Linked DNA regions of Homo sapiens: regions 1 and 2 are each linked to region 3. Evidence: fine-mapped expression QTL. A gene starts in region 3. Each other region holds a variant in brackets. All regions are shown on one strand. Distances are between the middles of the regions. Region 1 overlaps FRMD5 (FERM domain containing 5). Region 2 overlaps WDR76 (WD repeat domain 76). Region 3 holds the start of CATSPER2 (cation channel sperm associated 2).

The links. PIP is the estimated chance that this variant, and not a neighbour inherited with it, causes the effect.
Region 1: its variant is the best candidate, but not a certain one, in a credible set for the expression of CATSPER2 in transverse colon (GTEx, PIP 0.83).
Region 2: its variant is the best candidate, but not a certain one, in a credible set for the expression of CATSPER2 in whole blood (INTERVAL, PIP 0.56).

Annotation. Positions count from the first base shown.
Region 1 is chr15:44,028,539-44,035,829 of GRCh38, reverse strand. The region is part of intron 1 of FRMD5 (FERM domain containing 5); the gene reads left to right. Among named protein-coding and RNA genes, the nearest start is that of FRMD5, 160 kb to the left of the region's middle. The variant A/TTTAGTACCAGTA (reference allele first, on the strand shown) is at 3,845.
Region 2 is chr15:43,846,408-43,853,698 of GRCh38, reverse strand. It overlaps WDR76 (WD repeat domain 76), which reads right to left. Exons shown (of 13, transcript NM_024908.4): 9 at 2,454-2,612. Among named protein-coding and RNA genes, the nearest start is that of WDR76, 23 kb to the right of the region's middle. The variant TAAAAA/A (reference allele first, on the strand shown) is at 3,427.
Region 3 is chr15:43,646,363-43,653,419 of GRCh38, reverse strand. It overlaps CATSPER2 (cation channel sperm associated 2), which reads left to right and starts at 4,576. Exons shown (of 13, transcript NM_172095.4): 1 at 4,576-4,791; 2 at 5,357-5,503; 3 at 5,953-6,126; 4 at 6,302-6,370. The coding sequence starts at 5,359. It also overlaps the pseudogene PPIP5K1P1-CATSPER2 and the pseudogene PDIA3P2.

The DNA.
Region 1 (7,291 bases), 380 kb before region 3:
GGGGCTACTCAAGTTTTATGATATATAAACATAAAATATAAAACATAGATTTTTAAAAAATGGGATCAACACTGCTCAGGTGGCAGTTGGTCCAAAGAAAAAATAGTCAGGTACCAACCTCTAATAAGAAACATTTGCATAATGGCACATCCCTGACAGATCCAAAAGGGTCTCCAAATTTTATTACTTCTGTTTTACCCTAGCAACATTAATAAGTACATCATAACAGGCATTTTTTGGCCAAGAAAAATCAAATACTCTTTGGGAGGTAAAACGGATTTTGATGCCTTCAAATGAATGCTGGAGGAATTTGGCAAAAGACATTCTAGCAAATGCCAAAATAGCAGTCATCCAGGATACTGTGTGTTTGACTCACAGCCAGTCAGGCACAGGCAAAGTCTGACGTGTTGCTTCTTTACACCACCAGAGTAACACTTAGGAGAATGTTCTAGATGTGTAAATGTTCAAAACTTGAGCTCAGACCAGACCTAAGTGGTATACAACCTGTTCAAGGTTGATTTAATTGCTAGCAATTGTATATTCCTTAAGGTCTTTATGGCCTTTTGTCAGCATGGCATGGCAAGACAAGAAAAATTTTAAAACCACTGGTTATGTAGAGTGTTTTTTGGGTATGGAACCATATCTTGTGACTTAGCCCCGGAAGAGTCACCTGTGACACCATGATTGCAGGCTCTTTGGGGTTTGGACTGAAGTCTGGAAACTGCTGCATATGCTACATCAGAAATTTTAAATATAGTACCAGGTCTTAAGCAAATATAGAAAGTGAAAACAGCAGAATTCTAACAAGAATTAAGTGTTCTGATAGGCCAGTGGAAATGGGGAGCAAGGAACATTCACTGTTTCAGGGAACCAGCTTTAGGGACTGAGGTATCAAAAAGAAGGGATTGGATATACAAGTGGACAGGTTGGAGAGATCTCTAACCTGGGTAGAGGGAAAATAGTTAGAAGCACCCAGTTGTTAGGTTAGGGCTAGAATGAGCCTCATGTAGAACTCATCGGTGTTTGACTAGGGCTTCTTAACTCTTCTCTTCCCCCCTCAGCTCCCAAGTTTCAGACTGCCCAAAGCCTGGAAAAAGAGCTAAATCTAAAATTAGCTGAAGTTGCTGAGGATGCAACTTGGAGGTTGGGGCACAGACTTAGACAAGCCTTACGTCTTCCTGCTCCAGACAGTGCTAAGTAAGGGGGAAATATTTTCCTAAGATAGATGGGCACATAACCCCATTAACTCCCAAAGGAGTATGAAAGGGAATATGTGCTTATTTCACAATAATCTTTTATTGCAAAATTTACTGATGCAGAAGCAGAAACTAATGCAGGTGGCAAGTGAGAGGAATGTAACTTTGTTTCCCAGCATTTAGAAGTCCGTGAACCCAAGTGTAGACCAAGTGAACCTTTAAAGACAACACATGGGTATTACTTGGTCAGGGTAACAGACCATATAAGTAGGTAGTCAAATAATTCTAACTAGAAAACCTGAAAAAATAAATTGCTGAAAAAGGAGGTTGAATGAACAGTAATCATTCCTGTGTGATTAGTAAACTTTTAAGACCCTGTTATGGTGAATTGTATCACTGTACTTTTCAAGTAGACAACATTCAATTAGACACCTGCCTAAGGAGCATATTTTTCATTGACTTTTGATTATCAAAAATTGAGATCTTTCTCATGCCCAGACTATTGCCAAGGAAACAAGAGTAACAGTTTCCACTCAGCAGCCTGGCTAAATTCCAGAACCCCATGTGACTGGGCAGACTCCTGGAGTCTTTCTGATGACCAATATCAGAGATGCCTTGTCTGTGGCCTATTGTGTTTTCCTGTATAAATGCTTCATGGGAAAATTTATACTCTAGATCAAATAAATAAGAGCGAATCCTAATCACCTTTTATTGAACACTTAATAAATACCAGACAGTATGCCAAGCCTCAAACATAAATGATCTTATTTAATTCTTACGAATCTTAGGGACAAACCGTTTTCACTCATGTTGTAGAGGAAGCTAGCCTAAGAGAGTTCAAACAACTTACCCCAACTCACCCAGTTACTAAGTTTCAGAATCAGAATTTGAACTCAAGGAGTTTGATGTTTATGCCCATGATTTTAATCATTATATTCTACTGCCTTTTCTCTTCCCGTTTTTGAAATTAGCTCAGAACTAAAACCATTTTCGAAATATTAGAATTGTTTACTGGTGTAATTCTCTGTACAAAAATCTTACAAAGCAAGTGTAAACAATGGAATAAATGAAAGCTTCAAGTGAATATACACAATGAAAATTATATATGAAAATATTAAGTTCATTTATGCTATATCAAAAAAGAGACTTGAACAAAAACTATTATTTGGGATATTTATTGAAATGCCTCTTAAAAGAGAATTTGCCTCTTATCAGTTTGAAAAACTTTATTTTTTTTTTAACTTTTAGGTTTGGAGGCACATGTGAAGGTTTTTTACATATGTAAACATGTGTTACAGGGGTTTGTTGTAGATATTATTTCATCACCCAGATATTAAGCCCAGTATCCAATAGTTATCTTTTCTGCTCCTTTCTCTCCTCGCATCCTCCCCCTTCAAGTAGACCCAGTGTCTGTTATTTCCTTCTTGTGTTTATAGGTTCTTATAATTTAGCTATAATTAGCAAAATTATATTTTATCATTTAGCTACCACTTATAAGTAAGAACATGTGGTATTTGGTTTTCTGTAACTGTGTTATTTTTCTAAGAATAATAGCCTCCAGCTCCATCCATGTTCCTGCAAAAGACATGACCTTGTTCTTTTTTATGGCTGCATAGTATTCCATGGTGTATATGTACCATATTTTCTTTATGCAATCTGTCATTGATGGGCATTTAGGTTGATTCCTTGTCTCTGCTGTTGTGAATAATGCTGCAGTAAACATCCACATGCATGTGTCTTTATGGCAAAATGATTTATCTTCCTCTGGGTATATACCCAGTAATGGGATTGCTGGGTCCAATGGTAGCTCTGCTGTTGAGCTCTTTGTAGCGAGGAATTGCCATACTGCTTTCCACAATGGTTGAACTAATTTACACTCCCACCAACAGTGTATAAGTGTTCCCTTTTCTCCACAACCTCACAAGTATCTGTTATATTTTGACTTTTTAATAATAGCCTTTCTGACTGGTGTGAGATGGTATCTCCTTGTGGTTCTGATTTGCATTTCTCTAATGATGAGTGATATTGAGCTTTTTTTCCATATGCTTGTTGGCTGCATGTATGTCTTCTTTTGAGAAGTGTCTGTTTGTGTCCTTTGCCCACTTTTTAATGGGGTTGTTTGTTTTTTCTTGTAAATTTAAGTTCCTTATGGATGCTGGATATTACACCTTTGTCAGATGCATAGTTTGAAAATATTTTCTCCATTCTGTAGGTTGTCTGTTTACTCTGTGGACAGTTTCTTTTGCTGTGTCTGCAGAAGCTCTTCAGTTTAATTAGATCCCACTTGTCAATTTTTGCTTTCATAGCAATTGCTTTTGGCATCTTTGTCATGAAATCTTTGCTTGTTCCTATGTCCAGGATGGTATTGCCTAGGTTGTCTTCCAGGGTTTTCATAGTTTTGGGTTTTACAGTTAAGTCTTTATCCATCTTGAGTTGATTTTTGTATATAATGTAAGGAAGGGGTCCAGTTTCTATCTTCTGCATATGGATAGACAGTTTTCCCACCACCATTTATTGAATAGGGAGTCTTTTTCCCCGTTGCTTGTTTTTGTCAGCTTTGTTGAAGATCAGATGGTCATAGATGTGCAGCCTTATTCCTGGGCTCTCTATTCTGTTCCATTGGTCTATGTGCCTGTTTTAGTACCAGT[A/TTTAGTACCAGTA]CTATGCTGTTTTGGGTACTGTAGACTTGCAGGAATTATTTTCTACCCTGCTTGAATTTTAAAATAGCTCTCAAGGGACCTGATCCATAAAGATTTGCATCTATAATCTATAGAGTTGGAGCAGAATAATCATTTGATAAAAATGAAAGATGTCCCCATTTTTAGTTTCTCTAACGTTCAAGTAATCTTAAAGTTAAGGCAGATGTAAGGATAAGATGATTGGGGAATATCATGAAAATAGCCACCAAATACTGGACTACGTGAAATAGGACCAAAAGGGGTTAACATTGCCATGGACTGAACATGTTTGTACCCTGCAAAATTCATATGTTGAAACCTAATCCCCAGTGTGATGGTATTAGAAGATGGGGCCTTCGGGAGGTGGTTAGGTCATGAGGATAGAGTACTCATGATTGGGATTAATGACCTTATAAGGGGTTGAAGATACCAGATTTCTCCCCTTCCACCATGTAAGGACATATTAAGAAGGCACCATCTATGAACCAAGAAGAGGGCCCTTACCAGACACCATGAATGGCTGGCACCTTAATCTTAGATTCTCAGCCTCCAGAACTATGAGAAATAAATTTCTGTTGTTTATAAGCCACCCAGGTTATGGTATTTTGTTACAGAAGCCCAAATGGACTAAGACAAACATTAATTTTGTTTTTATATTTTCATAGAGAAATGATGGGATAACTGTAATATCCAGTTGTGTGTGGCTTTTTTTTCTCCCCTGTGGAAGAGGGGCCCTGGGCAGAACTTTATATTCTTGCACTTTTCAAGGACTTCAACCTTCATCTACACCACTATTCTAATTATTTTTATCACCCAAGCAGGTAGCTGAGTGTGCAGCACCCATCCATCCAGGCAGGTGGGAGCCCAAAGCACTCCTCACTAGGGTTGTAGAGCATGTGAGTATCTAGTCACTTGGCCAGAGCTTTTGACTAGGAGACCCAGTCAGACTGACTGACACTCCTCCTGCATCACTTTAGGGCTTCTTTTTTTTTTTCTTTTTCTGGTCTCTTTTGGAAAACCTGCTTCGGCAAATTCTTGTTGTTTTAATAGAGAATAGATTTCTTCTGCCTATTTAGTTCAGACCATTATTCTCTCTCCTATCTTTTTCAGACTTTGCACTCTTAAGTTTCTCTCATCCAGCACTTCCCTCTTCTTCCTTTCCACGTAACTTCAAGTGTGAGGGTGACAGAAAGACTGCAGATTTTGTGGAGACAGAGTCAAACCATGCCAAACTTCCATCTTCCTCCTCCTTCACCTTCTCCTTTTTGGGGATTGTAATGGGATCCATGGTATCACTGAGCTTTGCTACAAGGTGGAGTTGCCATTGATTATAGTGTTTAACTAGGGAGACTCAGAAAGGGAAACATACTTGCTTTTTCCTAGCATAGGGTTTTGTTTCCATTAAGCTTGAGAATGAATGAAGTTTACAGGAAGCTAGAAGTTTCACTGAGTCAATCCCTGTTCGCTTTATTCATCCAGGGCTTTGAAGTCATTAACACATAAAGTAGTGCTGAATTATAAATCTTGTCAGTAACACTAAGTATTTTCAGTTGTACATTATACTGTTGCTCAAGGAGAAGTAAATACAAAAATAAACAAACAGTAGAGGGCAGAATCAGGATTTATAAATGGAGTGGCTTTGTGATTCTGCTCTTCATAATCTGACTCTGGGTATGGGATTTGGATACGTAAATCTTATTAGAGCACCAATTTCCCCTCCTTCCCTCACCCCTCACCCCAGTTCAACAAAAATTAATTTTGTAAAAAAAAAAAATCAGTGTTGTAATGATCACACATGTTCATTCCCATTTAGTCTGCCTAAAGTTATGCCAGGAATTCTGTTCCAGGAAGTACAGATTTACAACATCAGCTGTCAACTTTTTTGTTTCCCATGTTCCAGTCTCTTTGAGAGCATCAGGCTACCAAGGCAGAGAATTTGTGATTTGTTTGTTCACTTATTCTTTAATTACCAGAAACATTGGAGGCTAGAGTACAAAAATGAATAAAACATAGTCCATACTCAAAAAATATATAATTCAAAGAGGCTTTTCATTCATAAGTTCTTTCAGTGTTTACTGATGATGTTCTTCAGGTGTTCTCACTTGCAGAATGCTGTGGCCATGCATCAGAATCACCTGAGACGTTACTAAAAATTAGCATTGCGTATGCTCCACCCCAGACCTACTGAATCGGAATCTCTAAGCATCTGTTCTGTTTTAAAGCCTGATAGGTAATTTTAATGTTATTGCTAGAGTGTTGAGAAACAAATTTACTGTGGAAAGTACAGTGATTGAATATGTCTGCACCTCAATCCTATATAGCCTTGTGTTTTAGTTACCATGTCAGCATATGTCAGCCTGTGTCTCCACCTCAATCCTGTATAAGCTTGTATTTTAGTTACCATATTTTCTCTGTACTGTTCCCTGTTATGTTCTGTTTACTAATCCTAGCCACTAGAATACCTATAGGTTTAATAGCTTTAACACTGAAATTATCCTGGGGCAGGTAAAATAAAGTTGCTGCTAAACACCAGAGTTAGTTTATTGGTTCAGACATCACCCATTCTGGTTCCTATTGCTGCTTTCTTATTGTGACTGCAAGGTCGAAATCCTGCACAGCTATTTGTGGTTCTGGTTTTTTTTTTTCCTTGAAGCAAAAGGATGCAGCAGTGTTATCCGAAGGGCTTTAAACAGTGAACCAAATGTAAGTTAAATATGGTGGCAGGAGCCATTCCATAAAGGTTACAAACTTGTTTTAGGAGTGAAGTGGGGACTTTTTTGGCTTGGTGCCAAAATGGAACTGGCATTGTTTTTTCAATTCAGCCTGCCTGGTATTTCTATCATAGCTTTGCTAGTTGATCAGTTTCCTCTCACTATGGCCTCTTATTCATTCCTTCATTTGGCAAATATTTGTTGAATACCTACTTATGTCAGGCACTGTTAAAGCAGTGGATGTAGTGGTAAATAAAATAGAAATGGTTTAGTCTATTTCTTTGAGCCTTCCTCAGAGAAAATGTCACTTCTTTGTCAATGTCTTTACAGCCTTTATCCTGAGACCAGGAGAGAAAAATTACCTAAATATCCAGTCTAGTTTAAAGCTTAAACTGATCCAGTAATTCAGACAGTCCCTTGGGGTAGTGTCATAAATGATGGCCATAGGTGTCTCCTGGTCTCAGGGGCAAGGTCCCTCATCCACTTTAGTGCTGCTTGTTCTGCTGTCATTTAGGGCTGAAATATGTGGCTGTAGGCTGCTTGCTCAGAACCCAGTAGCACTCTGGCTACCTGGGCCTCCCCCTGACTTCTGGTTGCACCCCCCTGAGCCTCTGGTGTGTCTGCCATCCAGTTCATCCTCTTATAATCTCTCAGTATCTGTGCCTTATGGGAACTATGGGGGCTCAGGAAACCTGAACCTCAGACACTTCTCTACCAG
Region 2 (7,291 bases), 200 kb before region 3:
CCTGACCTCAGGTGATCCACCCGCCTCAGCCTCCCAAAGTTCTGGGATTACAGGGGTGAGCCACCGCACCCGGTGCCATTTGTGTTTCTTTAAAGAAATGTTTATTCAGATCCTTTGCCCATTTTTTAATTGGGTTAGCTTTTTTAATTAAGCTATAGGAGTTCTCCACCTATTGTTTTAAAGTCAAGCTTATTGAAATGTAAGTTACAGCCAGGCGCGGTGGCTCATGCCTGTAATACCAGCACTTTGGAAGGCCAAGGTGGGCAGATCACTTGAGCTCAGGAGTTTGAGACCAGCCTGGGCAACATGGCAAAACACCGTCTCTACTAAAAATACAAAAATTAGCCAAGCATGGTGACACATGACTATAGTTCCAGCTACTCAGGAGGCTTAGGTGGGAGGATCACGTGAGCCTGGGAGGCAGAGGCTGCGGTGAGCCGAGATCAAGCCACTTCACTCCAGCTGGAGTGACAGAGTGAGACCCCCATCTCAAAAAATAAAAATAAGTAAGGCCAGGCGTGGTGGCTCACACCTGTAATCCCAAGACTTTGGGAGGCCAAGGTGGGTGGATCACCTGAGGTCAGGAGTTCAAGACCAGCCTGGCCAACATGGGGAAACCCTGTCTCTACTAAAAATACAAAAATTAGCCAGGTGTGGTGGCACGTGCCTGTAATCCCAGCTACTCAGGAGGATGAGGCAGGAGAATTGCTTGAACCCGGGAGGTGGAAGTTGCAGTGAGCCAAGATTGCACTGCTGCACTGCAGCCTGGGCAACAAGAGCGAGACTCTGTTTCAAAAATAAATATATAAAGAAAGAATAGAAACACAAATGTTCATCAACTGATGAACAGATGAATAAAATGTGGAATACCCATACAATGGCATATTATGCAGCCATAAAAAGGAATGAAGTACTGATACACGGCTACAACATGGATGAACTTTGAATACATTTTGTTAAAGAAACCAGTCACAAAAGACCACAAATTGTATGATTTCATTTATATGAAATGTCCAGAAGAGGCAAATCTGACCACACACAGTGGCTCACGCTGTAATCCCAGCACTTTGGGAGGCTGAGGCAGGTGGATTACAAGGTCAGGAGTTCGAGACCAGCCTGGTCAACATGGTGAAACCCCGTCCCTACTAAAAATACAAAAATTAGCTTGGCATGGTGGCATGCGCCTGTAGTCCCAGCTACTCAGGAGGCTGAGACAGGAGAATCACTTGAACCTGGGAGGCGGAGCTTGCAGTGAGCCAAGATCGCACCACTGCACTCCAGCCTGGGCGACAGAGTGAGACTCCATCTCTACAACAACAACAACGACGACAACAACAACAACAACAAATTACCCGGGCGTGATGATGGGTGCCTGTAATCCCTGCTACTCAGGAGGCTGAGGCAGAAGAATTGCTTGAACCTGGGAGGCAGAAGTTGCAGTGAGCCGAGATCTCGCCACTGCACTCCAGCCTAGGTGACGAGAGTAAAACTCCGTCTCAAAAAAAATAAAATAAAAAAGTTCAACTTATAAGACTTATCTTATTGAGGCAATCTGATACAGTTAAGCAAATCTGAAAGTTCATTTCAAATGATATGTTTGTTTTAAACATTAAGTAGAAGATGTCTTATTTTGAGAGAGGGTCTCACTCTGTCACCCAGGCTGAAGTGCAATGATGTATGTGATCACGGCTTTACTACAGCCTCAATCTCCTGGGCTCAAGCAATCCTCACACCTCAGCCTCCTGAGTAGCTGTGACTACAGGCACATGCCACCACACCAAGCTAATTTTTTTTAGAGACAAGGTCTTACTATGTTGCCCAGGCTGATCTTGAACTCCTGGGCTCAAGTGATTCTCCCACCTCAGCCTCCTGAGTAGCTGAGACTACAGGCACACACCACCAAGCTCAGCTAATATTTTTTATTTTCTGTAGAGACAAGGTCTCGCCATGTTGCCCAGGCTGGTCTGGAACTCCTGGCCTGAAGTGAGTCTCCCACCTTGGCTTCCCAAAGTGCTGAGATTACAAGCATGAGCCACCACACCCAGCTAAATACAAGTCTTATGCCTAAAAACAGAAGAGTAAGTTATTTTAGTTAAAAGCTTTGGGAGAGAAAAAAAAAAGAAATTTAACAAGCGCAAACACATACTATGTGCCAGGCTCTCTTCTAAGTACTTTATCTGCATAAGCTCATTAAATTCTCATGACAACCCTGTAAGGTCAGTCCTGTTAAATCCCATTTCACAGCTAAGGAAAGTGAGGCACAACAAGGTTAAGCAACTTGTCAAGGTCATACAACTAGTAACAGATGATCTGGGATTTGAACTTAGGCAGCGTAGTTCTCAAAGTCCTTCTGCTATACCACTTCTCCCAATTGGTATAATAATTATTCATGTGGCATTTCGAAGAATCTAGAATATCATCTGAAGTCAGCATGTAAACACATTAACATTTACCTCTTCAAAAATAGCCCTGGAAAAATCCCCACAGCGTAACGTGCCATCATAGCTCAGTGACAGTATGTGGGCCGGATTGGCGGGTGAGAAGTAAAGACAGCTAACTGGCTGACTATGGGGATGAAAAACATAAACTCCATCTTCTTTAGGTTGCTGGGTCTGGAAGAGAGTTGCGGGAAAGGGGAGAGAGAAAAAAACTAGTGAAAAATAGTGATTTTTGCTATGCTATTATGTCATTAAAGAATTTACACTGGATTATATTCAGTCTTTTCTTAGTCTATAATTGTAACCACTCTCCCCTTCACAAAGTCAGAATGAGAAACTTTATCTTGTCATTAACTTTTTTCTAGTTTTCAATCCAACAATACCAAGTCACATTAACAGTGACCAGCTTTCTGTAACTAACAAAATAGTTTATATATTACTGTCAGTTTATAAAATCCTCAGGAAATGATAAATCTACTCTATTTCACACATGGTATAATTGCTAACTAAAACAGTATCAGTACCTTACCACTTTGCTTCTGCAGCAGGCTTCTTCTGTATAATATTAACTTACTCATTCTCAGTGTAATTTTCGTAAGGTATTTGGTCCTGGGACAAAGATAATGGTTTTAAACATACTTTGTCCTCTAAATGCACCATAAAAATGGCCGGGCGCGGTGGCTCACGCCTGTAATCCTAGCACTTTGGGAGGCCAAGGCGGGCGGATCACGAGGTCAGGAGATCGAGACCATCCTGGCTAACATGGTGAAACCCCATCTCTACTAAAAATACAAAAAACTAGCCGGGCGTGGTGGCCGGCACCTGTAGTCCCATCTACTCGGGAGGCTGAGGCAGGAGAATGGCATGAATCCGGGAGGTGGAGCTTGCAGTGAGCCGACATCTCACCACTGCACTCCAGCCTGGGTGACAGAGCAAGACTCCGTCTCAAAAAATAAAATAAAATAAAATAAAATAAAATAAAATAAAA[TAAAAA/A]AATAACACCATAAAAATGCATGTATTTGAATTTCCATATTAATATACCTACTCCTAAGGACTATCCTTTCCACAACTGGATTGCCAGCTCCTGAGAAGTCGCTTTTCAGAACAAGTTATGTTTCTATGCCATATGGCATATTATGAACCAAAGAATCACCTCTAAATCTGGCTTACTCTACTCTGAAATGGTCAAGCATTTTTGTTTTCTTTTTTATTTTAAATTTTAAAATGGAGAGAAGTATTCTTTAAAAGAAAAAATAAGAGAAAAAATTATTATAATCACACATACTCTTCCTGTTACCAGAGTTAGAAACTACTGACATATTTGTTTATAGCATTTGTTTTCTAGAAAAATAAAATTTTCTCTTGGTATAAAGAACTCAAACAATGCAGAAATGTACAAAGATGGAAGTTTTAAAAAAATCACTCCAGGCCAGGCGCGGTGGCTCACCTGTAATCCCAGCACTTTGGGAGGCTGAGGTGGGTGGATCACGAGGTCAGGAATTCAAGACCAGCCTGGCCAAGATGGTGAAACCCCGTCTCTACTAAAAATACAAAAATTAGCCGGGCGTGGTGGCAGACACCTGTAATTCCAGCTACTCAGGAGGCTGAGGCAGAGAATTGCTTGAACCGGGGAGGCAGAGGTTGCAGTGAGCCAAGATTGCACCACTGAACTCCAGCCTGGGCGACAAAGCGAGACTCCGTCTCAAAAAAAAAAATCATTCCAAATCTAAAATTAACCAAAATTATCATTGAAACACTGAGATTATAGACATCTTTATAGTTAAATTTAATGTGATTTAAAACGGCATATACAGCATGGTCCTTTTTTAAAATTTCTTCGCTATCATTCTATCTGTATAGGTACACATAAATCTGTCAAAATAATATAAGAAAATGAAGCTAAAGGAATTTTTGAATTTCAAGTATTTACAGAGACATTATCTTCTACAATGGCAAAAGTATAAAACAAAAAGCAATTGTAGTCATTATGCTTTTTATTTTTTAAACTGTTAATTTTAGATAATTTATATTGATTTGAGAATATTATTCTCACCCTTCCTCCAACAGTCTTTTTTTTTTTTTTTTTGAGATGAAGTCTCACTCTGTCACCCAGGCTTGAGTGCAGTGGCACGATCTCAGCTCACTGCAACCTCCACCTCCCAGGTTCAAGCGATTCTCCTGTCTCAGCCTCCTGAGTCGCTGGGATTACAGGCACCCACCACCATGCTTGGCTAATTTTTGTATTTTTAGTGGAGACGGGGTTTCACCATGTTGAGACAGCAGGTAATCTGAAATGCAGTTTTTTTGGCCTCAAAAAAAAAAAAAAAAAAGTCTCAACTCTGTCGCCCAGGCTGGAGTGCAGTGGTGCAATGCCGGCTCACTGCAACCTCTGCCTCCCGGGTTCAAGCAATTCTCCTGCCTTAGTTTCCCAAGTGGCTGGGATTACAGGTGCACATCACCATACCCAGCTAATTTTGTATTTTTAGTAGAGACAGGGTTTCACCATGTTAGTCAGGCTGATCTTGAACTCGACCTCAGGTGATTCACCTGCCTCAGCCTCCCAAAGTGTTGGGATTACAGGCATGAGCCACTGCGCCCGGCCTTGTTCATTATTTTATACCAGGATTCATACCACCTACTTGTATGGCGGTGGAGGGTGTTACCACTCCCGTGGGCCAAGAAAACTTCCTTTGAAGACAATCAGTTCTACTACTCACTGTCCCTACTTCTTCTATTTTTCCTGATTTCACCCCAGCAACTATTTCCCCATTCCTCATTGAAAAGAGGAAAAATCGGAATACCCAATGTGCTTCTCTCTACTTTTGATAATATAGAAAATTCTCAGGATTTGGTCAATTTACCAGTATAGATTCTGCACACGGGGCAGGGCAGAAGCTAAATTATGCTGTCTCCTAGCTCTGCTACAGATTTGTTTCTCTCCTTGGTAGCTAGTTTTTGAAGTATACTACATTAGGTTCTGCTTCTTTCTTATTGCAGTAAGTGAATTTTTTTTCTTTTTTTGAGATAGGGTCTCACTCTGTCAATCCAGCCTGGAGTACAGTGACACAATCATGGCTCACTGCAGCCTCAACCGCCTTGAGCTCAGGTGATATTCCCAGCTCAACTTCCTGAGTAGCTGGGACTAATGGCACACACCACTACATCCAGTTTTTTTTTTGTTTGTTTGTTTTTTTTAAGAGACAGGCATCTCACTATGTCACCTAGGCAGGTCTCAAATTAGTGGGCTTAAGCCATCCTCCTGCCTTGACTTCCCAAAGCCCTGGAATTACAAGCATGAGCCACTGCACCCAGCCAGCATGAGGGATCTTATAGGGATGATGAAAATGTTCTAAAACCAGACTATGATAATTAAACAACTAAGTAAACTTATTAAAAACCACTGAGGCCAGGTGCAGTGGCTCACGCCTGTAATCGCAGCTCTGGGAGGCCGAAGCAGGTGAAAATCACTTGAGGTCAGGAGTTCCAGATCAGCCTGGCCAACATGGAGAAGCCTCATCTCTACAAAAAATACAAAAATTAGGCTGGGCACGGTGACTCATTCGTGTAAACCCAGCACTTTGGGAGGCCGAGGCGGGTGGATTACAAGGTCAGGAGTTCAAGACCAGCCTGGCCAAGATGGTGAAACCCCATCTCTACTAAAAAAACAAAAAAATTAGCCAGGTGTGGTAGCGGACGCCTGTAATCCCAGCCACTTGGGAGGCTGAGGCAGAGAACTGCTTGAACCCAGGAGGCGGAGGCTGCAGTGAGCAGAGATCACGCCACTGCATGCCAGCCTGGGCAACAGAGCAAGACTCGTCTCAAAAAAAAAAAAATTAGCCAGGTGTGGCAGCGAGCGCCTATAATCCCAGCTACTCAGGAGGCTGAGGCACGAGAATCACCTGAACCCAGGAGGCAGAGATTGCAGTGAGCCAGGATCACACCACAGCACTCCAGCCTGGGTGACAGAGCAAGATTCCCATCTCAAAAAAAAAGAAAAAAAAGCATTGAATTTTACATTTTTTAAATAGGATTTTATGATAGGTAAATTATTACCTCAATGAAGCCATTTTTTAAAAAAACTGGGGAAATTGTGAGCACAGGATAGACAAGGTAATATTGCTTTTAGACTTGTTAAATCTGTTAATGAGATTGCCAAATGTCCTGGAAAATTAGGTTGATGGAGATACTGGACTACAGAGACCTAGTAATACAGATTTTTTTTTTTTTTTTTTTTTTTTGAGGTGGTGTTTTGCTCTTGTTTCCCAGGCTGGAGTGCAATGGCGCCATCTCGGCTCACTGCAACCTCCGTCTCCTGTGTTCAAGCAAATCTCCTGCCTCAGCCTCCCAAGTAGCTGGGATTACAGGCATGTGCCACCATGCCCGGCTAATTTTGTATCTTTAGTAGAGATGGGATTTCATCATGTTGTTCAGGCTGGTCTTGAACTCCAGACCTCAGGTGATCCGCCAAACCTTGGCATCCCAAAGTGCTGGGATCACAGGTGTGAGCCACCGCGTCCGGCTGTAATACAGATTTTTGGAGTCATCATGAAAGATATGAAAAAAGGATTTTTATGTATGTCTTAAATCTATACAGATCAACTCATCCAAAAAAAAACCTTCATTTAATCATGCTAATTTTCAATTTTTCCTTTGCAAAATTCTTCAAAAAGTAGTCTCAGATGGGTGTGGTGGCTCACACCTGTAATCCCAGCACTTTGGGAGGCTGAAGCAGGTGGAGTGCTTGAGCTCAGGAGTTTGAGATGAGCCTAGGCAACATAGTGAGACCCATCTCTACAAAAAGTTAAAAAATTAGCCAGGTGTGGTGGCACATGACCGTAGTCCCAGCTACGCAG
Region 3 (7,057 bases):
TTCCTCCTTGTACCTCTGGTAGAATTTGGCTGTGAATCCATCTGGTCCTGGACTCTTTTTCGTTGGTAAGCTATTGATTATTGCCACAATTTCAGCTCCTGTTATTGGTCTATTCAGAGATTCAACTTCTTCCTGGTTTAGTCTTGGGAGAGTGTATGTGTCGAGGAATTTATCCATTTCTTCTAGATTTTCTGGTTTATTTGCGTAGACGTGTTTGTAGTATTCTCTGATGGTAGTTTGTATTTCTGTGGGATTGGTGGTGATATCCCTTTTATCATTTTTTATTGCATCTATTTGATTCTTCTCTCTTTTTTTCTTTATTAGTCTTGCTAGCGGTCTATCAATTTTGTTGATCCTTTCAAAAAACCAGCTCCTGGATTCGTTAATTTTTTGAAGGGTTTTTTGTGTCTCTATTTCCTTCAGTTCTGCTCTGATTTTAGTTATTTCTTGCCTTCTGCTAGCTTTTGAATGTGTTTGCTTTTGCTTTTCTAGTTCTTTTAATTGTGATGTTAGGGTGTCAATTTTGGATCTTTCCTGCTTTCTCTTGTGGGCATTTAGTGCTATAAATTTCCCTCTACACACTGCTTTGAATGTGTCCCAGAGATTCTGGTATGTTGTGTCTTTGTTCTCGTTGGTTTCAAAGAACATCTTTATTTCTGCCTTCATTTCGTTATGTACCCAGTAGTCATTCAGGAGCAGGTTGTTCAGTTTCCATGTAGTTGAGCGGTTTTGAGTGAGATTCTTAATCCTGAGTTCTAGTTTGATTGCACTGTGGTCTGAGAGATAGTTTGTTATAATTTCTGTTCTTTTACATTTGCTGAGGAGAGCTTTACTTCCAACTATGTGGCCAATTTTGGAATAGGTGTGGTGTGGTGCTGAAAAAAACGTATATTCTGTTGATTTGGGGTGGAGAGTTCTGTAGATGTCTATTAGGTCCGCTTGGTGGAGAGCTGAGTTCAATTCCTGGGTATTCTTGTTGACTTTCTGTCTCGTTGATCTGTCTAATGTTGACAGTGGGGTGTTAAAGTCTCCCATTATTAATGTGTGGGAGTCTAAGTCTCTTTGTAGGTCACTCAGGACTTGCTTTATGAATCTGGGTGCTCCTGTATTGGGTGCATATATATTTAGGATAGTTAGCTCTTCTTGTTGAATTGATCAACAAGGCCTTAATTACTTAATTGATCATTAAGTAATGGCCTTCGTCTCTTTTGATCTTTGTTGGTTTAAAGTCTGTTTTATCAGAGACTAGGATTGCAACCCCTGCCTTTTTTTGTTTTCCATTTGCTTGGTAGATCTTCCTCCATCCTTTTATTTTGAGCCTATGTGTGTCTCTGCACGTGAGATGGGTTTCCTGAATACAGCACACTGATGGGTCTTGACTCTTTATCCAATTTGCCAGTCTGTGTCTTTTAATTGGAGCATTTAGTCCATTTACATTTAAAGTTAATATTGTTATGTGTGAATTTGATCCTGTCATTATGATGTTAGCTGGTTATTTTGCTCATTAGTTGATGCAGTTTCTTCCTAGTCTCGATGGTCTTTACATTTTGGCATGATTTTGCAGCGGCTGGTACCGTTTGTTCCTGTCCATGTTTAGTGCTTCCTTCAGGAGCTCTTTTAGGGCAGGCCTGGTGGTGACAAAATCTCTCAGCATTTGCTTGTCTGTAAAGTATTTTATTTCTCCTTCACTTATGAAGCTTAATTTGGCTGGATATGAAATTCTGGGTTGAAAATTCTTTTCTTTAAGAATGTTGAATATTGGCCCCCACTCTCTTCTGGCTTGTAGAGTTTATGCCGAGAGATCTGCTGTTAGCCTGATGGGCTTCCCTTTCAGGGTAACCCACCTTTCTCTCTGGCTGCCCTTAACATTTTTTCCTTCATTTCAACTTTGGTGAATCTGACAATTATGTGTCTTGGTGTTGCTCTTCTCGAGGAGTATCTTTGTGGCATTCTCTGTATTTCCTGAATCTGAATGTTGGCCTGCCTTGCTAGATTGGGGAAGTTCTCCTGGATAATATCCTGTAGAGTGTTTTCCAACTTGGTTCCATTCTCCCCATCACTTTCAGGTACACCAGTCAGACGTAGATTTGGTCTTTTCACATAGTCCCATATTTCTTGGAGGCTTTGCTCATTTCTTTTTATTCTTTTTTCTCTAAACTTCCCTTCTCGCTTCATTTCATTCATTTCATCTTCCATCGCTGATACCCTTTCTTCCAGTTGATTGCATCGGCTCCTGAGGCTTCTGCATTCTTCACGTAGTTCTTGAGCCTTGGCTTTCAGCTCCATCAGCTCCTTTAAGCACTTCTCTGTATTGGTTATTGTAGTTATACATTCTTCTAAATTTTTTTCAAAGTTTTCAACTTCTTTGCCTTTGGTTTGAATGTCCTCCCGTAGCTCAGAGTAATTTGATCGTCTGAAGCCTTCTTCTCTCAGCTCGTCAAAGTCATTCTCCGTCCAGCTTTGTTCCGTTGCTGGTGAGGAACTGTGTTCCTTTGGAGGAGGAGAGGTGCTCTGCTTTTTAGAGTTTGCAGTTTTTCTGCTCTGTTTTTTCCCCATCTTTGTGGTTCTATCTACTTTTGGTTTTCGATGATGGTGATGTACAGATGGGTTTTTGGTGTGGACGTCCTTTCTGTTTGTTAGTTTTCCTTCTAACAGACAGGACCCTCAGCTGCAGGTCTGTTGGAGTACCTGGCCGTGTGAGGTGTCAGTCTGCCCCTGCTGGGGGTTGCCTCCCAGTTAGGCTGCTTGGGGGTCAGGGGTCAGGGACCCACTTGAGGAGGCAGTCTGGCCGTTCTCAGATCTCCAGCTGCGTGCTAGGAGAACCACTGCTCTCTTCAAAGCTGTCAGACAGGGACATTTAAGTCTGCAGAGGTTACTGCTGTCTTTTTGTTTGTCTGTGCCCTGCCCCCAGAGGTGGAGCCTACAGAGGCAGGCAGGCCTCCTTGAGCTGTGGTGGGCTCCACCCAGTTCGAGCTTCCCGGCTGCTTTGTTTACCTAAGCAAGCCTGGGCAATGGCAGGCACCCCTCCCCCAGCCTCGCTGCCGCCTTGCAGTTTGATCTCAGACTGCTGTGCTAGCAATCAGCGAGACTCCGTGGGTGTAGGACCCTCCGAGCCAGGTGCGGGATATAATCTCCTGGTGCGCTGTTTTTTAAGCCCGTCGGAAAAGCGAAGTTTTCGGGTGGGAGTGACCCGATTTTCCAGGTGCTGTCTGTCACCACTTTCTTTGACTAGGAAAGGGAACTCCCTGACCCCTTGCGCTTCCCGAGTGAGGCAATGCCTCGCCCTGCTTCGGCTCGTGCACAGTGCGCGCACCCACTGACCTGCGCCCACTGTCTGGCACTCCCTATTGAGATGAACCGGGTACCTCAGATGGAAATGCAGAAATCACCCGTCTTCTGCGTCACTCATGCTGGGAGCTGTCGACTGGAGCTGTTCCTATTCGGAGTATTGACATTTTAAAGAAATCCTAATTAAAATGGACAATATGGACAGATTATGATGGAATTATTCTTGTTCAGGTACTCTTTTCGTTTGGACAGAGGTATCTGCCGGTACTGAGATGTAAGTGATCAGCTGAAGGGAGAAACTGTACACCATGTGACGGACAAATTGCCTGCCTCAAGAAAGCACTTAGGACCATTCTGCAGCCACTCAGTGACCTTGGCTAGAAACCAATGGCTGTGCGGCGTGAGGTAAGATGAAAGGAAATACCCTAGGGATCCAGGACTTCTGCATTTGGTGAAACGTCCGCTTCCACTACAAGGCTTTGGGATGTCTAGTCTGTAGACTGGAGTAACATTAATACTGACTCATGCAGAAACAATATAGCTACATATTGAACTGGGGGAAGGGGTGGCAAAACCCTCTGCAAATAGGAAGTGCCACAAGAGCACCGAGATAAGGATGAGGCCCTGCGTGAGCGCAGCCTTCGGGTTTTCCTTGGGCCGATCAGCACCGACTCCACCGCTCTCGGCGAGGCACCTCCAGCTCCCGGGAATGAGAAATGTGCCCGCCACAGCAGGGGCCCACAGGAATGAAGGGCGCCGGCGCTGCGTAGGCCCAACAGTTCCCCGCGCCCTCGCCCCCGGCCCCGGCCCAGCCCGGCCCTTCTTCCCCCGCCTTGGCAGAGTGGCGTCATCAGGGGGCGAAAAACCCGACGAGCATGAGGCCCGCAGATCCCGTGTAGGAGATGCGACTCTCGAAGTTGTCGTCCGTGAGTTCGGAGGCAGCGGCGAGGCGGGCCGCGGCAAGAAGCAGCGCCACACCCGGGAACAGCGCTAGGCGGCGGAGGCGCATGGCGGCGAGGTGGGGTGGGGACGGCCGGAAGGGTCGCGGCTCGGCTGGGACTGCGGAGGTCGGGCGCGCGACCACAAACCGGCTGCCTGCGCTGGCGCGTCTGGCCCAGGGGACCTGCAGCCGGAGGTCCCAACCCCCAAACCCGGCTCGGGCCGCTGTGTGGCAGCCGCTGATTGGCTGCGCGTCGCCTTCGTCCGGCGGGCGGGACCAGCTGGTTACCGCTGAGTGGCCGGAGAGCGGGGCGGGGCGGGGCCTAGGCGGCGAGTGGCTGGGCGAGCGTTGCTCCGCATGGTCCTGGGCTGTGGGTAGGGGCTAGGGCCGGGTCCCGGGGTGAGCCGAAACCTGGGGGTCGAGCGGGGCGGGGAATGGGGCGCAGTGAGGCTGGGAGCCGGCCCTGAGCTCGTCTTGCATAGGGGTAGCCAGGCTCGGGGCACCTGAGCTGGAGGCGGAAGCGTGAAATAAGGACTGAGTGGGCAAAGAGAACCTGGGCTGAGGTGAGGCCCAGAAGCGAGAATGGAGGAGAGAAGGAGCTAGCCCCCGAAGGAGTGTTGGAGTGGACACACTTGGGACGGGACCCATTTTCAAAATGTCAGGCTTTGGCATTTTGTCCAATTTCTCTGCACTTGGTTTCTCTTGCGTGAGCAGGCCAAGACCTCCCCCAACTCCACCTCATTGCCCGATTGTCTCAGGCACAGGTGGGACCCAGATTCTTTGTCCAGCCCCGGGCCCCTGCCCTTGTGGCTGCTCCTTTTTCTTGCGGTGTTTTTGTTTGTTTTGTTTTGTTTTTAATGAGTTTTAATTAGAAATGCCATCACAAAGTGAAGATGCCTGGCCGCTTGGTCGACTGTGCAATGTCTTTACCACTTAGCCCCTTTTGTTTCAAAACACCCTGAGTCCTAGTAGAATGTTTGTTCTTCCCAACTGCTCCTAGTTCGTAGATGTGGGTACATTAAGGAATCTTAAGGGTAAAGAGGGTGGGGAGGAGGGGACAGAAAACCTGTAATCCTTGGTGCAGCTCCAAGAATGAAATGACACTTGATGCTTACATTTTCTTAGCAGACATGGCCGCTTACCAACAAGAAGAGCAGATGCAGCTTCCCCGAGCTGATGCCATTCGTTCACGTCTCATCGATACTTTCTCTCTCATTGAGCATTTGCAAGGCTTGAGCCAAGCTGTGCCGCGGCACACTATCAGGGAGTTACTTGGTCAGCAGCCTATTTCTTCACTAATTTAAATTTAAGACTCCTATCCACATCCTCTACATTTAAGAGTGGAAAATTCTGGGGAGGTTTAGTTGCTGGTTTACCAAACTTGATAAATCAAGGGCTTGTAAATAAAACTGAAGAGATAGAATCCACGTCTTTCACTTTTAGGCCTAGGATAGCCACTAGCCATGGATGATTGGGAAGAGTTTCTGTCAAAGACTCTTAAAACTTTGAGAGTGAGCCTGCTGCTTTTGTGGGCATGGACAGTGTTGGTCATAAGCAATACATTTGCTCTCACTCCAAACAGAATTCTTAGTTGCTGTGAGAAGAGAAGGACTAGCAGTAAGGCATTAGGGGAACCCATTACCTGACCAGTATCCCTGCCCCCAACCCTACCTGGTCTATTTTGTTTGTATTTATCCACTATCCCTTTTTAATTTTTGTTGTAGATCCTTCCCGCCAGAAGAAACTTGTATTGGGAGATCAACACCAGCTAGTGCGTTTCTCTATAAAGCCTCAGCGTATAGAACAGATTTCACATGCCCAGAGGCTGTTGAGCAGGCTTCATGTGCGCTGCAGTCAGAGGCCACCTCTTTCTTTGTGGGCCGGATGGGTCCTTGAGTGTATCCTTTCATGTCACTCATTTTTATCCTGGCTGTTGATCATCTGCCTAATGACTTATTTTTTGCTCCCCATACTCCACTGTCTCATTTTCACTGCTTATGTTATTGCTCTTATTATTTCAGCTGCATAAATCAGAAAGAACTCCACTCTGTACATTTCCTTAAGAGACAACAGGTCCTCTCTTCAAAAACTTCATCATCTTCCTGGTCTTTTTGAATACGATCATATTGATGGTTGAAATAGGTGAGAACTGACCTTGTATGAAAGAGGAAGTGAGGCCGGGCACGCCGGCTCACACGTGTAATCCTAGCACTTTGGGAGGCCGGGGCGTGTGGATTGCCGGAGCTCAGGAGTTGGAGACCAGCCTGGGCAACATGGTGAAACCCTGTCTCTACTAAAAAATACAAAAAATTAGCCGGGCTTGGTAGCACGCGCTTGTAGTCCCAGCTACTTGGGAGGCTGAGGCAGGAGAATCGCTTAAACCCAGGAGGCGTAGGTTTCAGTGAGCCGAGATTGTGCCACTGCATTTCAGCCTGGGCGACAGAGTACAACTCTGTCTCAAAAAAAAAAAAAAGAAAAAGAAAAAGAGGAAGTGGGTAGGAGTAATTTTTTTTTCTAAATTGATCATTTTACATTTTTGAATGTCATTTGAAATGTGACATTTATATTAAGGACAATTATATTAAGCCTCCTGGAGTAGAATTTATGCAACTGCTAAAATCTAGAAATATTCGCTGGGCACGGTAGCTCACACCTGTAATCTCAGCACTTTGGGAGGCCGAGGTGGTTGAATCACTTGAGGTCAGGAATTCAAGACCAGCCTAGCCAACATGTTGAAACCCCATCTGTACTAAAAATAGAAAAAATTAGCTGGGCGTGGTGGTGGGCACCTGTAATCCCAGCTACTCAGTAGGCTGAGGCAGGAGGACG